Homo sapiens: one gene and its partners. The protein of the gene in region 1 purifies or fractionates together with the protein of each later gene. This does not show direct contact. Each region holds a gene or a part of one and is shown on either strand. Other genes may lie near its edges.

Region 1 (3,583 bases):
TCTTTCCTAAAATTTCAAGGTAGTAGAGATTTAGTGTATAAATATATGCTTTTTCAGAGATTAATCCACTCTGTTCTCAGTATTCCTACTGTGCTCTTACTAGCTATATTTCACTATACATGCTATAATTCAATATACATGATAATGCAGCCAAAAGCTATTATGTATAGATTCATGTACATTTAAAATAATACTATTCTCAATAAAATTTTAAAAGAAAATCTGGCTTTTTTTCATAAAGACTGTTATTTATGTTAATATACAGTGGGTTTATTGTTATTTTTAAACAAATATTTTTATGTAGCCTACATAAGTTTATTGGAGTCCTCAATTAAGAGTGTAAAGACCAAAAGTCTGAGAGCCACTACTCTAGAATACACCAAAGACAGTTTTTAAGAAACTCTGTATTTTGAAATAATTATGGATTCACAGGAAGTTGCAAAGATATTAGTTTCTCAGTGCCCTTTATCCAATCCTCCCAATGGTCACATCTTATCTACCTATAATCCAATATCAAAACCAGGAAATTGATATTAATATGATGTGTGTGTATAGTTCTATGCCATTTTATCATATGTACACATATTTATTTAAACACCACCATAATCAAAAGGCAGAACCATTCTTTAACTGCAATGATCTCCTCCCTGCTACCCCTCTATTGTCATACCTACTCCCCTAAAGTCTTCTTTCCCTAATACCTGGTAACCATCAATATGTTGTTCATCTCTACAGTTTTATTATTTTGAAAATATTATAAAGTGAGATCATACAGTATGTGACCTTTTGAGATTCTCTTTTGTCACTCAGCAAAATGCCTTTGAGAGATGTCCAAGTTGTTTTTTACTGCTCATCAGCACTGCGTGATATGGAGGTACCATAGTTTAACCATTCACCTATTGCTAAGACATTTTAGTTGGGACTTCTGGGATATTACAAAGAAAGCTTTTATTAATAACTGTGTACAAGTTTCTGTGTGGACCTGAGCTTTCATTTCTCTGGGATGTCCAGGAGTATAATTGCTGGGTTGTACGGTAACTGTATGTTTAGTTTTTAAGATATTGCCAAAATATTTTTTAGAGTGACTGTACCATTTTATATTCCTACCAACAATGTATGAGAGATCCAGTTCCCAAACATCTTTGTCAGCATTTGGTATTGTTACCATTTTTAAATTTTAGCCATCCAAATATGTAGTGATATATTGTGGTTTTAATATGCATTTCCCTAATAGTCACTAAGTCAATGTTGATCAACTTTCCTTGTGCTTATTTGCTATTTGTATATCCTGTCTGTTGAAATGACTATTCTTTTGCCCATGGTTTAAATTGGATTGTTAGGTTTTATTTTTATTTGCTTTTAACATAGAGTTTTGAGAGTTCTTTATGTACTTCAGAGACAGGTCATTTGCTGGATTTGTAATTTGCAAAGAATTTCTCCCAGTCTGTATTTTAATTCCCCTAACAGTGTCTTTCATAAACAAAAGTTTTACATTTTGATGGGGCCCAATAAATCAGTTTTTTATTTTATGGATCACGCTTTTGATGTCATATCTGAGAACTCATTTCCTAGTCCTAGGTCCCTAGAGTTTCTCCTGTAGAAAAGCTTTATAGTTTTATATTTTACATTTTAATCTATAAGTAATTTTGTGTTAATTTTTGCATAAAGTATAAGATTTAAGTCACAATTCATTTTTTGCCTGTGGATATCCAACTGTTCCAGCACAGGTTAAAAAGACAATTCTACCTGTATTGAATTATTTTTGCATTGTCAAACGTCAGTTGGTGTACTTGTGCAGAGTTATTTCTGTGCTATCCATCTATAAGTCTATGCCTCTGACAATAACACAGTCTTGAATACTGTGGCTATGTCTTGAAATCAAGTAGTGATTTCTCTTACACTTTTTCAAAATTTTTTATAGTTCCTTTATTTTTCCATTTTAAAAAATTCTCCATTTCTAAATTTTAGAATCATCTCATTCATATTTATAAAAAATCATGCTCGATTTTTCATAGGAATTACATTAAATTTATATATCAACTAGGAGAGAATTGACGTTTTTACTATGCTGTGTCTTCAAATCCATGAATATGGTATGTCTCTCCAGTTTTTAGGGCTTTTCTTTTCCTTTGTCAGTATTTTATAATTTTCATTTCACATATCCTTATATATTTTGTTAGGTTTATAAATTTTTTCATATATTTTATAAGTATTTTTTATAGATTTACATATTTTACATATATTTACATGCATTTTTGTGTATTTTAATTTTGGGGGGCAATCTAGTTTGGTGTCAGGCTAATACTGACTTCACAGAATGAGTTGGAACATCTTCCCTCCTCTTCTAGTTTTTAAAAGCATGTAAAATTGATGTTCTTTAAATGTTCAGTGGAAACCTTCAGTGTAGCCATCTGGGCCTGGATATTTCTTTTTCATGAGCTTTCCAATCATTAATCAAATATTTTTAGTGGTTATAGGACTATTTTATTACTTATTTCATGTTGGCTGAGTTTGGTTGGTAGTTTGTGGTTTTGGGGAAATTAATCCATTTCTCCTAAGTTGTCAAATTTATGAGCATAAATTTGTTTGTAATATTCCCTCCCTTGTTATCTTTTAACGGCCTTAGGATCAGTAGTGACATCTCATTACATTCCGGATACTGATGATTGCATCTTCTTTTTATCTTTTGATAGTCTTGTTTGAAGTGTATCAATTTTATTGAAATTTTCAAAGAACTGGCTTTTGGCTTCATTGATTTTGTTTGCTTGTTTTCAGTTACACTGATTTCTGTTATTATTTCCTTCTTTCTGCTTGCTTTAAGATCAGTTTGCTTGGCTTTAAAATTGTAAATTCAATTTCTTTAATGGTTATAGGACTATTCAGATTATTTTATTTTGGTTGAGCTGTAGCTTTACGCTACTGATTTAAGAACAATCCTCTTTTCTAATGTAATCATTTAGTGCTATAAATATCCTTATCAATACTTCTTTAACTGCATCCCACAAATTTTGATGTGTTGTATTTTCATTCATTTCTGTGTAATAGGTTTAATTTCTGTCAAGACTTTTTCTTGAACCATAAATTTAAGAATGCTGTGTAATTCCCAAAAATCTGGAAATTTTGTTGTCTTTTATTGGTTTCTAGTTAGATTCATTTATGGTCAGAAAACACACATTGTATTATTTCAATCCTCTTGAATTTGGTCAGATTTGCTTTGTGACTCAAGATATAATCTATCTTTGCAAATCTTCCATAGATGCTTGAAAAAAGTGTATATTCTGCTATTGTTGGTAGAGTTCTCTATAAATGTCAACTCAATCCTGTTGGTTGGTGGTGGCGTTTAGTTACAAAATCATCCAACTACCTCATTTTCAAATAAAATCTCTTAGGCTAAAGAATACTAAACAGTGTGGCAACATGTTTAAGCCAAAACCACACCTAGAGTCCTGAATTCTAGTCTAGAACACCATTTTGACATACTATATCTACTTAAGCAATTAGGAACATAATACTTAGCTATCTCTTAATCAAATATGTACTGCCAAAATAAGGGATTAAGAGACTGGGGATAATAGCTTGTAAA
Region 2 (3,670 bases), on another chromosome or scaffold:
TAATAATCTAGAGATAATTTAAAGCAGGGGGTCCCCAACCCCAGAGCCACGGAGTGATACCAGTCCATGGCCTGTTTGGAACCAGGCTGCATAGCAGGAGGCAAGCGACCACCTGAGCTCTGCCTCCTGTCAGATCAGCAGCAGAGGCATTAGATTCTCTTAGGAGCACGAACCCTATTGTGAACTGCGCATGTGAGGGATCCAGGTTGTGTGTTCCTTGTGAAAATCTAATGCCTGAGATGATCTGAAATGAAACAGTTTCATCCCGAAATCATCCTCAGCACCCCCTGCCCTGGTCCATGGAAAAACTGTCTTCCACAAAACAGGTCCCTAGTGCCAAAAAGGTTGGCGACTGCTGATTTAAAGTATACAAAAGGATATGCACAGGTTACATGCAAATACTACACCATTTTATAGAAGGGACTTAAGCATCTGAGGATTTTGGTATCCCAGGGATCCTTAAACCAATCTCACTGAAGATACTGAGGGATGACTGCACTACTGAACTATATACTTAAAAATGGACAAGATGGTACATTTTATGTTATATATATTTCACTACACACACAAAGGAAATAGAAAACATTTGCCATATTTCCCCTAAGTCAGACAAAACCACCATAAGCTTCACAACCAGGGATCTCTTATATGAGTTTTTATTTATTTTTACAGAGTCATAGCCAAGAATCCTAATAGAATTTCTAACACTGAAATAATATGGAGTAGTCAAAAAGAAGACACTTCTAACTGAATTTCTTTTTTTTTTTGAAATGGGGTCTTGCTCTGTTGCCCAGGCTAGAATGTAATGGCACAATCATGGCTCACTGCAGCCTCAACCTCCTGGGCTCAAGTGATCCTCCCACCTCTGCCTCCCAAGTGGCTGGGACCACAGGTGCATGCCACCACACCCAGCTAATTTTTAAATTTTTGGTAAAGACAGGGTCTAGCTATATTAATCCACACTGGTCTCAAATTCCTGGGCTCAAGCAATTCTGGGTTTACGCCTCTGCTGCTAAAGGTGTCGGGATTGCCATTGTAAGCTACCATACCCGGCTTGAATTTCATAATCAAATGGAAAACTTCCACGTGAAATATTAGACGTTATTTCTTACTCTGTATGAATGATATTTTAAAAATTACTTTATGTTATAAAAAAAGTCGATAAATTCACTAGGCAACTATGGAAATAAACCAAACTAAAGAAGCATATTTAAAATCTGCATAACTCAACGCTCAAACTTGGGCATCTATTAATAAAACAGGATACCTAAATCCAAGCATGGGAAGGCAACCCCAAGCTTCACTGCTTTAACATTTCCTCACTCTCTGGAGTTTACTGAAGAAAACACTTTTCCCTTGACATGTAGGATAGAGAACCAAGCTCCCTGAAAATGGCCTGGGAACTTCTCCCACTGAGTTTTAAAAATAAACCAAGGGCCTAGTTTATACATGTGTCCTGGTCACAAGTCTTTCCCCACATATATCTGTGACTTTTCACAGATGTAGCCAGTGGGTAATCTCTGTGAAAAGCACTTTTAAAACTATAGTGCTTGGCCAGGCGCGCTGGCTCATGCCTATAATCCCAGCACTTTGGGTGGCCGAGGCGGGCGGATCACGAGGTCAGGAGATTCAGACCATCTTGGCTAACATGGTGAAACCCCGTCTGTACTAAAAGTGCAAAAAAAAAATTGGTCGGGCGTGGTGGCAGGCGCCTGTAGTCCCAGCTATTCAGGAGGCTGAGGCAGGAGAATGGTGTGAACCCAGGAGGTGGAGCTTGCAGTGAGCCACACTCTAACCTGGGCAACAGAGCGAAACTCGGTCTAAAAACAAACAAACAAACAAACAAAAACTACAGTGCTTATTAACTAAGTAGAGACATTGCTGCTGGTTTACTACTTTCAGAATGTGTGTTGCTCACCATGATGGCTGATTTATTGCAATGAAATAACTGGAGTAGAAAGCTGATTATAAAAATGATCCAAGACTAATGCAATCAGGTACAGAATTTTCCTCACAAGTACTCACTGTAAGCATTAAAGAATAAAGTACATCAAAAGCTCCCTGTTAGGCGAGATGCACTGGTTCTAAGTGGGTAAGGCTTTTCAAAGTCAACTAAAATTTCTGCAAAGTACCTTGCAAAGTTAAACCTGATAAAGGTCACTGCATGTTTTTTCACTTGGACTTAGAAACCAGATGATAGACTAGGCATGGTGGCTTACCCCTGTAATCCTAGCACTTTGGGAGGCGGAGGTGGGAGGATCACTTGAGTCCAGGAGTTTGAGACCACCCTGGTCAACATGATGAGACTATAAACAAAATTAGCCAGGCATGGGGGCACATGCCTGTGGTCCCAACTACTCAAGAGGCTGAGGCAGGAAGACCACTTGATCCCAGGAGTTTGAGGCTTCCATGAGCCCTGATCATACCACTGCACTCCAGCCTGGGAAACAGAACCAGACCTTGTCTCAAAAAATAAAAATTAATAAAAACAATTTTTTTGAGATGGAGTCTTGCTCTGTCACCCAGGCTGGAGTGCAGTGGCGTGACCTCGGGTCACTGCAACCTCCGATTCCCTGGTTCAAGCAATTCTTCTGCCTCACCTTCCCGAGTAGCTGGGACTACAGGCGTGAGGCACCACACCTGGCTAATTTTTGTATTTCTAGTAGAGATCGGGTTTCACCATGTTGGCCAGGCTAATCTCGAACTCCTGACCTCAGGTGATCCACTGGCCTTGGCCTCCCAAAGTGCTGGGATTACAGGTGTGAGCCACCGTGCCCAGCCCAATAATTTTTTTTTTTTTTAAAACGAAACCGGATGATACTGATTACACCAGAGAAATGTTGGCAAAATTTCTTATAATTCTATACAGTACATGGTTTTAATGGCTTACATCATTTTGTATCAAGATAATAATAAAAGAATTATAAAGTTACTCACAAATTATTCCCCTGTAAAAGGTTCAGCCGTCCTGAGTATTGTAACTGGAACTGATTCTACAGGAGTGAGTTACTCACTCAGAGTGAGTGCTTGTGAGGAACATTCCGTGTTGCTACAGTATCATCAGAGGCCAAAAGGAAAATACTCACCCCAGTTACCAGTTCCTCACACTGCTGCTTCTTGGATGCTAAGTCCTGAGCAGCCATCTCCAAGTCATACTGCATAAGTTCATGTTTCCTGCACACAGCCCTACAGATGAAAAAATGTGCTGCCATTTAACTTTTCCTTTAACATGTCAAACATTTTTTTCAAGGGTAGAGGAGAACCATTCACAATGTCTCGCTAGGGCAGAATGTGTGTGCCCAGAATTTTCAAGTTTAAAATGTAGTAGCCCAACATTAAAAATGGAATCTAATGGAATCTAGCAGAACCTAACCATAAAAACTTCATATATTCTTTTTTTTTTTTTTTTTTTTTTGAGACAGAGTTTTGCTCTTGTTGCCCAGGCTGGAGTGCAATGGCGCGATCTCGGCTCACTGCAACCTCCGCCTCCCGGGTTCAAATGATTCTCCTGCCTCAGCTTCCCTAGTAGATGGGATTACAGGCATGCGCCACCACACCCAGCTAATTTTGTATTTTTAGTAGAGATGGGAATTCTCCATATTGGCCAGGCTGGTCTCAAACTGCTGACCTGAGGTGACCCACCCACTTCGGCCTCCCAAAGTACTGGGAT
Region 3 (3,670 bases), about 36 Mb from region 1:
TTTTTCAGTTAGTTTATATATATATGAATGAATGTTATTGCTAAAGTATATAAAGGTTTTGGACAAAAAAGTTCTTTGGCATCAATTTTATTCCTATTTTTTGTTGTTTTTTGTTGTCAAGATGGAGCCTCGCTGTGTTGCTCAGGCTGGAGTGCGTGGCTACTCACACAGGTGTGATCATAACAGCAGCCTCAAATGAACCGCTGGCCACAGTGCCCTGGGTAGCTCTAGGTGGGACTATAAGCACGTACTGCTATGTCCCTGTTATTCCTTTTTCTTTTTTTTTTTGAGACTGAGTCTCGCTCTGTCGACGGGGCTCACTGCCACCTCTGCCTCCCAGGTTCAAGCGATTCTTCTGCCTCAGCCTCCCAAGTAGCTTGGACTACAGGTGTGTGCTACTACGCCCGGCTAATTTTTTGTATTTTTTAGTAGAGATGGGGTGTCACCGTGTTAGCTAGTCTGGTCTCGATCTCCTGACCTCGTGATCTGCCCACCTCTGCCTCCCAAAGTGCTGGGATTACAGGCGTGAGCCACCGCACCTGGCCTGATGGTTGCTTTGAGATAAAATAAATTAATAGAAAGTATTTAGAATACTACCAGGCACATACCGAGGGCTTATATAAATATAGTTCAGCTTTGTTTTACTTTGAGTTTTAATTGTGAGTGAAATTGAGTATCCTTCATAAGTTATTTAATTCATTATAGATATATATTTTAATGAATTGCTTCTTTGTGTTCTTGGCTTATTATTTATTCATTTATTTTTGAGGCAGAGTCTTGCTCTGTTGCCCAGGCTGGAGTGCAGTGGTGCTATCTCAGCTCACTACAACCTCTGCCTCCTGGGTTCAAACAATTCTTGTGCCTCAGCCTCCCAAGTAGCGAGGACGACTGGCATGTGCCACCACGCCTGGCTGGGTTTTTTTTGTCTTTTTAGTGGAGACAGGGTTTCACCATGTTGGCCACACTGGTCTCGAACTTCTGGCCTCAAGTGATCTGCCTGACTCGGCCTCCCAAAGAGCCGGCATTATAGGCCTGAGCCATTGTGCCTGGCCCCTAGCGCCATTTTCTACTGGGACATTGGACTTACTGATGTGTAAGGATTCTTGGTATATTAAGGAATTTACCTTTTGTGTTTCCCTAGCAACTAATGATAAGCATTTTTCATGTGTGTATTCTTTTTTTTTTTTGAGATGGAGTCTTGCTCTGTCACCCAGGCCGTGGTGCAGTGGTGTGATCTTGGCTCACTGCAAGCTCCGCCTTCCGGGTTCACGCCATTCTCCTGCCTCAGCCTCCCGGGTAGCTGGAACTACAGATGCCCGCCACCACGCCTGGCTCATTTTTTTGTATTTTTAGTAGAGACGGAGTTTCACTGTGTTAGCCAGGATGGTCTCAATCTCCTGACCTGATGACCCACCCGCTTCGGCCTCCCAAAGTGCTGGGATTACAGGCATGAGCCACCACACCCGGCGAAGTTTGTTTTCTTATCATGACAGCCATTCAGATATTTAAAGGCAGGTTTCATGTAATGGCAGTTTTCTTCCATCCCTGCACCAATTAAACCTTTCTAGTTGCCTCAACTGTATTTCATGGGTTATGGTCTCCAAGCCACTTTGTATCATTTGCACAGATTTCTTACAGGTTAAAGGCATTGTTTAAGTTTAGTCCTCAGCACACCGTGAGATAAACATTTGCTATTTCCACCTCAGCCTCCCAAAGTGCTGGGATTACAGGTGTGAGCCCCCGCGCCCAGCCAGTGAATTAGTTTTGTTGTTGTTGTTCTTTTAAACAGAGTCTCGCTCTTTTGCCCAGGTTGGAGTACAGTGACATGATCTTGGCTCACTGCAACCTCTGCCTCCCGGGTTCAAGCAGTTCTCCTGCCTCAGCCTCCTGAGTAGCTGGGACTACAGGCGCCCGCCACCACGCCTGGCTAATTTTTGTGTTTTTAGTAGAGACAGGGTTTCACCATGTTGGCCAGGCTGGCCTCGAACTCCTGACCTCATGATCCGCCCGCCTTGGCCTCCCAAACTGCTGGGATTACAGGCATGAGCCACCACGCCTGGCCTAGCATTTTAGTGTTTAGCAGCCACCACTAGACGTAGTGTAATATAGTTTGGTATGGGTCTTTTTTATGAAGTCTCTTTTGACTATTGATTTAATTGAGAACCTCTGCAGTCATTAGCCCCTCTGGGCCTTTTTTTCTCATCTGTGTAATGATGGGTTTGGTAAGAAATCAAAGGAAGTATCTTCATTTTCTTATAAGAGGGTAAAGGAAGTCTGTATATATTTGTGTGTATAGACTAGTATACAGTTACACAGATGTATACATTTGTGTGTTTATGTCTACAAAAATAATGTCTATTTGTATCTCCATCTCCATTAAACAGTTCAACTGTTTAATCTTCAACAAACAATTCATTGCCAGTCTTGTTTCATTTTTATCCTCACTAAAGTAAATTCAAGATGTTGTATTTGATTCATAAATATATTTTTTTAACAGATAAGGACTCCAAAAATATACAATTTTGGCATTTTTTATGTTTTGGCTTTTGAATAGACAACTTACATGCAGTATAAAATTCAAGAAGTATGAAAGTCTTTTCTTGTTCCTTATCCCTTAGTCATTCCATCTCTAAGAGCATCCATATCTGTACATAATGTAGAGCTGCCTCATTCTTTTTAACAACTGCATAGTATTCAGGTGTGTTGCTATATGGTAATTTAATTCTTTATTAATTGGTATATTGTTTATGAAAGCAAAAACCAGGAAACAGTGTTCTATTGAGTTTCTTGTTACTTATGTAATTTTGTGTTCGTGGAAAGTTATTTCTAAATACTTGTAAATGAAACTGCTGGCTTCAAGAGTAAGTCCTTTCTTTCACATGTACATTTTTAGTTTTAAAAGATATTACCAAATCTTAACCTGTTAAATTACATTAAAACCCTTTGGAGGCTGGACGTGGTGGCTCATGCCTGTGATTGTAGCACTTTGGGAGGCAGAGGCAGGACGTTTGCTTGAGCCCAGGAGTTCAAGACCAGCCTAGGCACCGTAGTGTGACCCTGTCTGTTAAATAAAAAGGGGAGTTAGGCAGGTGTGGTGGTGCACACCTGTAGTTCCAGCTGTTTGGGAGTGCTGCTCAGGAGGCTGAGGTGGGAGGATCACTTGAGGCCTGGAGGTCTCTGAAGCTGCAGTGAGCTGTGATCACACCACTGTATTCCAGTGTGGGTGACAGTGAGATCCTGTCTTGAGGGCAGGAAAACCTATTGGGTAGAATTAAAAATTATGCAGTGAATCTGTCCATGTAAAGCATCCCTCTCACCTGTATTTGATGATGCTAATTGAGATTTGTAAATAGCTTTTCTTAAATGTAGATGTATTTTGTAGAAGTAATTTTATTGTTTGGCATAGGGTATACATTTTGTCAGTGTTTTTCTACAAGTAAATGTTGAGGGAATTAATAATACCAGTTGGAATCATATTTGTATCTCATTTGGAAAGGTTGTAAAAATGTTCTGATAGTAAAAATTGAAGGCAACAAAAATGAATTCTCCACATACCAGATGAATAGGCAGGCTGAGGATTTATTACTGGCTGATATGCATAAATAGCCACTATTAGCCATTTAACTAACACACCAGAACTACTGCTAAAAATTCCCTTGAGATTATATGG
Region 4 (3,670 bases), on another chromosome or scaffold:
AATATTCTAATTATAATATTTTAAAAGTCAGGATTATTTTATGTGACAGATAAAATTACAGTGATGTTAAAGGATACACTTAAACATAGTAATTAAAACCCTTGTCTCTTGGGTCAAGTGCATAATAGCCTATATGACCTTAGGCAAGTTGCCTAACCTCTCAGCCTCAGTTACCTAACCCATAAATTGAGGATATTATTACTACCTACTGCATAGGGTACACTGTTAAAATATTTAAAAGATAAGATACACATAAACTGTTTATTTAGGTGCCTGGCACATATGTAGTTAATAAATAAGTTCCAAATATTTTTTTAAATAAAACTTCTTTATATACATGGATACACATAGTGAGTTCTCAATTATGGAAACAAGATTTTCCATAAAAACAATTCTAGGCTGGGCTCAGTGGCTCACGCCTGTAATCCCAGCACTTTGGGAGGCCGAGGTGGGCAGATCGCGAGGTCAGGAGTTCAAGACCAGCCTAGCCAACACGGTGAAACCCCGTTTCTACTAAAAATACAAAAAAAAAAAAATAGCCAGGTATGGTCTGGCGCCTGTAATCCCAGCTACTCGGGAGGCTGAGGCAGGAGAATCGCTTGAACCCGGAAGGCGCAGGTTGCAGTGAGCCAAGATCGCGCCACTGCACTCCAGCCTGGGCAACAAGAGTGAAACTCTGTCTCAAAAGAAACAAAAAAAAAACTATAGGTCAGTAGTCAATTCAATATCTCTAAGTTCCTTTTAAAACACAAATCTGATGTTATCAGTAAAAATGAAGGACAAGGATGTTTCAGAAAACTACACAATATATTATCCGGGCCACAAAAGAAACATCTTTGATTAGAAACATCAAGCCTAGACCCTATGCCATTTTAAAGTATGACTTTAAAACACATCTTTCTGCCACTCTACCACAAACCCCCATACTGAGGCCTTTCCTCAAGCTATTACAGCATAGGATTACATACCACAGCTTAACTTTACATGGTTAATGTTACTATTTTTCCAAGAACTTACCATGATGCCAAAAAAAAAAAATACAGATTTTTAAAATTCCTCTATCTATTCACAAGAGATTAAGCAACAATCAAGACACCAAAAAAAAAAGACTGCTCAGTAGCTCACACCTGCAATCCCAGCACTTGCGGAGGCCAAGGCAGGAGAATTGCTGGAGCCCACAAGTTTGAGACCACCTTGGGCAAGAGGGAGACCCTGTCTCTACAAAATGTTTAAAAATTAGCCAAACGTGGTGGTAAATATCTGTGGTCCCAGCTACCTGGGAGGCTAAGATGGAAGGACTGCTTGAGCCAGGGAGGTTGAGTCTACAGTGAGCCCTGTTCACAACCACTGCAAACTCCAGCCTAGGCAAGAGTGAGACCCTGACTCGAAAAAAAAAAAAAAAAAAAGAGAGAGAAGGAAAAAAAACAACAAAATAATCAAGATACAAAAGATGTTGGAAGTAAAAAGAACATTTACTGTGCAATTATTGTGTGCAAAACACCTATGCTTTAGAAATTATCTAAATTATCACTCAACAGAAAGGAAAGGAGCTTCTGAAAAATTAAGTAACTTGATCAAGATTTCACAACTACTGACAGGACCTACAGAGAAATTCATACCTGATTCCAAAACACTATCTAAAAATATATGTCCCCTCCCAAAAATAATGTTTAAAAACATGCTCCACTTATTCAAAACCTCCGCTGCTTAAAACCTCAGGAAGCAGTTGCTATCACGGTAAAAATCTGATCAGTTCAATCCATTTTATTTTTTTGAGACAGCATCTTGCTATATTGCCCAGGCTGGACTTGAACTCCTGGTCTCAAGAGATCCTTCTGCCTCAGCCTCCTAAGTACCTGGGATTACAAGCACGCACTACTACTGTGCCTAGCTTCAGTTTTATTTTTTAATTTCTATTCTAACTCAGGAATAAAACACATTCCTTTGCTAAAATATGGAAGAACAATTATTTTCTAGTACAATAATTGGAAAAATGCCAAAATAGGGAAGAACAAAATGATTTTCTAGTACAATGAATTAACTGAAAAAATATGAACAAGATCTCAGGAGTCAGAGTGAGAATGCTATTCGTGAGGGCACAGAAACCAGCCCCATCTGAATAATGTCAAGGATGAGGAGAAAAATACAAAATGTGGCCAATTTAGACTCGAAAGAGGAATTTGACTTAATAACCAAGAAACACCACACGTTTTGCAAAATTGAAGGAATAAAGGGACAAAGATTCTTCCCTGAGTTTTCAACAAATTGAAATTAATACCTAGAGGAAGAATAGACGTTACCTGAAATTATGGAATGTAAAAGTAATATATACCTATGATTATTTTATGTTCCAATTTTTTAAATAATGAAAATATTACAGTATGAAAATTGTCCATAAGTACTGGAAAACTTTATATCAAGAGCAAAATAAGACTCAAATTCATCAGTAGTTAGCTTTCCGATTATTTTTTTCCTCCTGTGTTATGATGTATATTTTGGCCAACCGATCTGCTTTAAGTTAGCACTTTCCCTCTTAGGTAGGTAAAAAGAAAAGAGAGCAATCTACTGCTAGTAACTTGGATTAAGAGGCTTGATAACAAAGTATACTGAAATTATTGGAAATGCTTTCAAATTAATGTAATTTTATCAATAACTACCTCTTAATTGGAGCCAATAATTGAGATCTAAAAATATAGAAATCACAGTTATTGTCCTTTAGACACAAGTTCTGAGAAAGTCATGAACTTGAAAAACTTCAACCCATTATACACTTCAAAATTAGTGATTCAAAAAAAAGAAAAAAATTTAGTGATTCAAATGAGTTATTAATTACCATTCCATTTACAAGAAGATATATATGTCACTGTTGCCTTTAAACAGTTTTCAGCTTCCAATATACAGGATCATCTCAGTTTATGAAGCAAAGGTGTTTTTGCAGTTTTTTAAAGTATATATATTGTCATACCTTTGCGGTTAAAAAGAAATTGTTATTTAAAGGACTACTGTGGAACACATACTTCTGAAATACAAATAATTATTCTGTCTTAGCAGTAAGTAGATGTCAAACTGTATCAGGCAGTAAAATAGAATAGTGAGGAATGTTTCCTAAAAGGTAGTCTTGAGCTTAATTTAATCTGGGGGTGGGGGGGAATGAACATTTATTAAGTGTCCACTATGTTCCAAGCCCCAGAAATAGAACTAGTAACAACAGCCACCATTTCCTCAGCTCTTACGCTTGCTACAAGGCACTGTACCAATACTTCCTATGGATTCACTCATTTAATTCTCCTCTTAACCTATGAGGTTAATAAAAGCGTATTCCAAAAACGTGAGATAACTGGAATATCTATTTAAGATTACAAGAGTTAGAATCAATAAGACTAGCAAGGCTTAGAAAGCCAAAAAATACAGCTTGAAGCATAACAGAAGCTGAGAGCAAATAAGTACCATGGAGCTGGTTTTGCTAGTAGACAGCCAATGTGCAGCCTTCCAGAAATTTAGTTATAACCCAGACAACTAAATTAAATCACCACAGTTAATAATTAGCAGGAAAAGAAATTACAGGTATTTAAGAATTTACATTTCAGTTATTTCAGTAGTTAACATTGGAACAATTTCAGGGATTTTTTTCTGTTCAAGTTAAGTTTGGGTCAGGATCCAGATGTATGGA

What was found. The genes of interacting proteins can lie anywhere in the genome.
Region 2: the proteins of C10orf88 (region 1) and SNX4 purify together in Homo sapiens (affinity purification with mass spectrometry; one large-scale study listed by BioGRID and IntAct). This does not show direct contact.
Region 3: the proteins of C10orf88 (region 1) and WAPL purify together in Homo sapiens (affinity purification with mass spectrometry; one large-scale study listed by BioGRID and IntAct). This does not show direct contact.
Region 4: the proteins of C10orf88 (region 1) and NCKAP1 purify together in Homo sapiens (affinity purification with mass spectrometry; 2 studies listed by BioGRID and IntAct, with this or other methods). This does not show direct contact.

What each region holds. Positions count from the first base shown.
Region 1 is NC_000010.11:122,933,667-122,937,249, forward strand, and holds part of C10orf88 (ATPase PAAT), read right to left. Parts: intron 1-3,583. UniProt on the Homo sapiens protein: ATPase that regulates mitochondrial ABC transporters ABCB7, ABCB8/MITOSUR and ABCB10. Regulates mitochondrial ferric concentration and heme biosynthesis and plays a role in the maintenance of mitochondrial homeostasis and cell survival.
Region 2 is NC_000003.12:125,454,180-125,457,849, forward strand, and holds part of SNX4 (sorting nexin-4), read right to left. Parts: intron 3,187-3,670; coding exon 3,087-3,186; intron 1-3,086. UniProt on the Homo sapiens protein: Involved in the regulation of endocytosis and in several stages of intracellular trafficking. Plays a role in recycling endocytosed transferrin receptor and prevent its degradation.
Region 3 is NC_000010.11:86,501,270-86,504,939, reverse strand, and holds part of WAPL (wings apart-like protein homolog), read left to right. Parts: intron 1-3,670. UniProt on the Homo sapiens protein: Regulator of sister chromatid cohesion in mitosis which negatively regulates cohesin association with chromatin. Involved in both sister chromatid cohesion during interphase and sister-chromatid resolution during early stages of mitosis.
Region 4 is NC_000002.12:183,028,435-183,032,104, forward strand, and holds part of NCKAP1 (nck-associated protein 1), read right to left. Parts: intron 1-3,670. UniProt on the Homo sapiens protein: Part of the WAVE complex that regulates lamellipodia formation. The WAVE complex regulates actin filament reorganization via its interaction with the Arp2/3 complex. Actin remodeling activity is regulated by RAC1.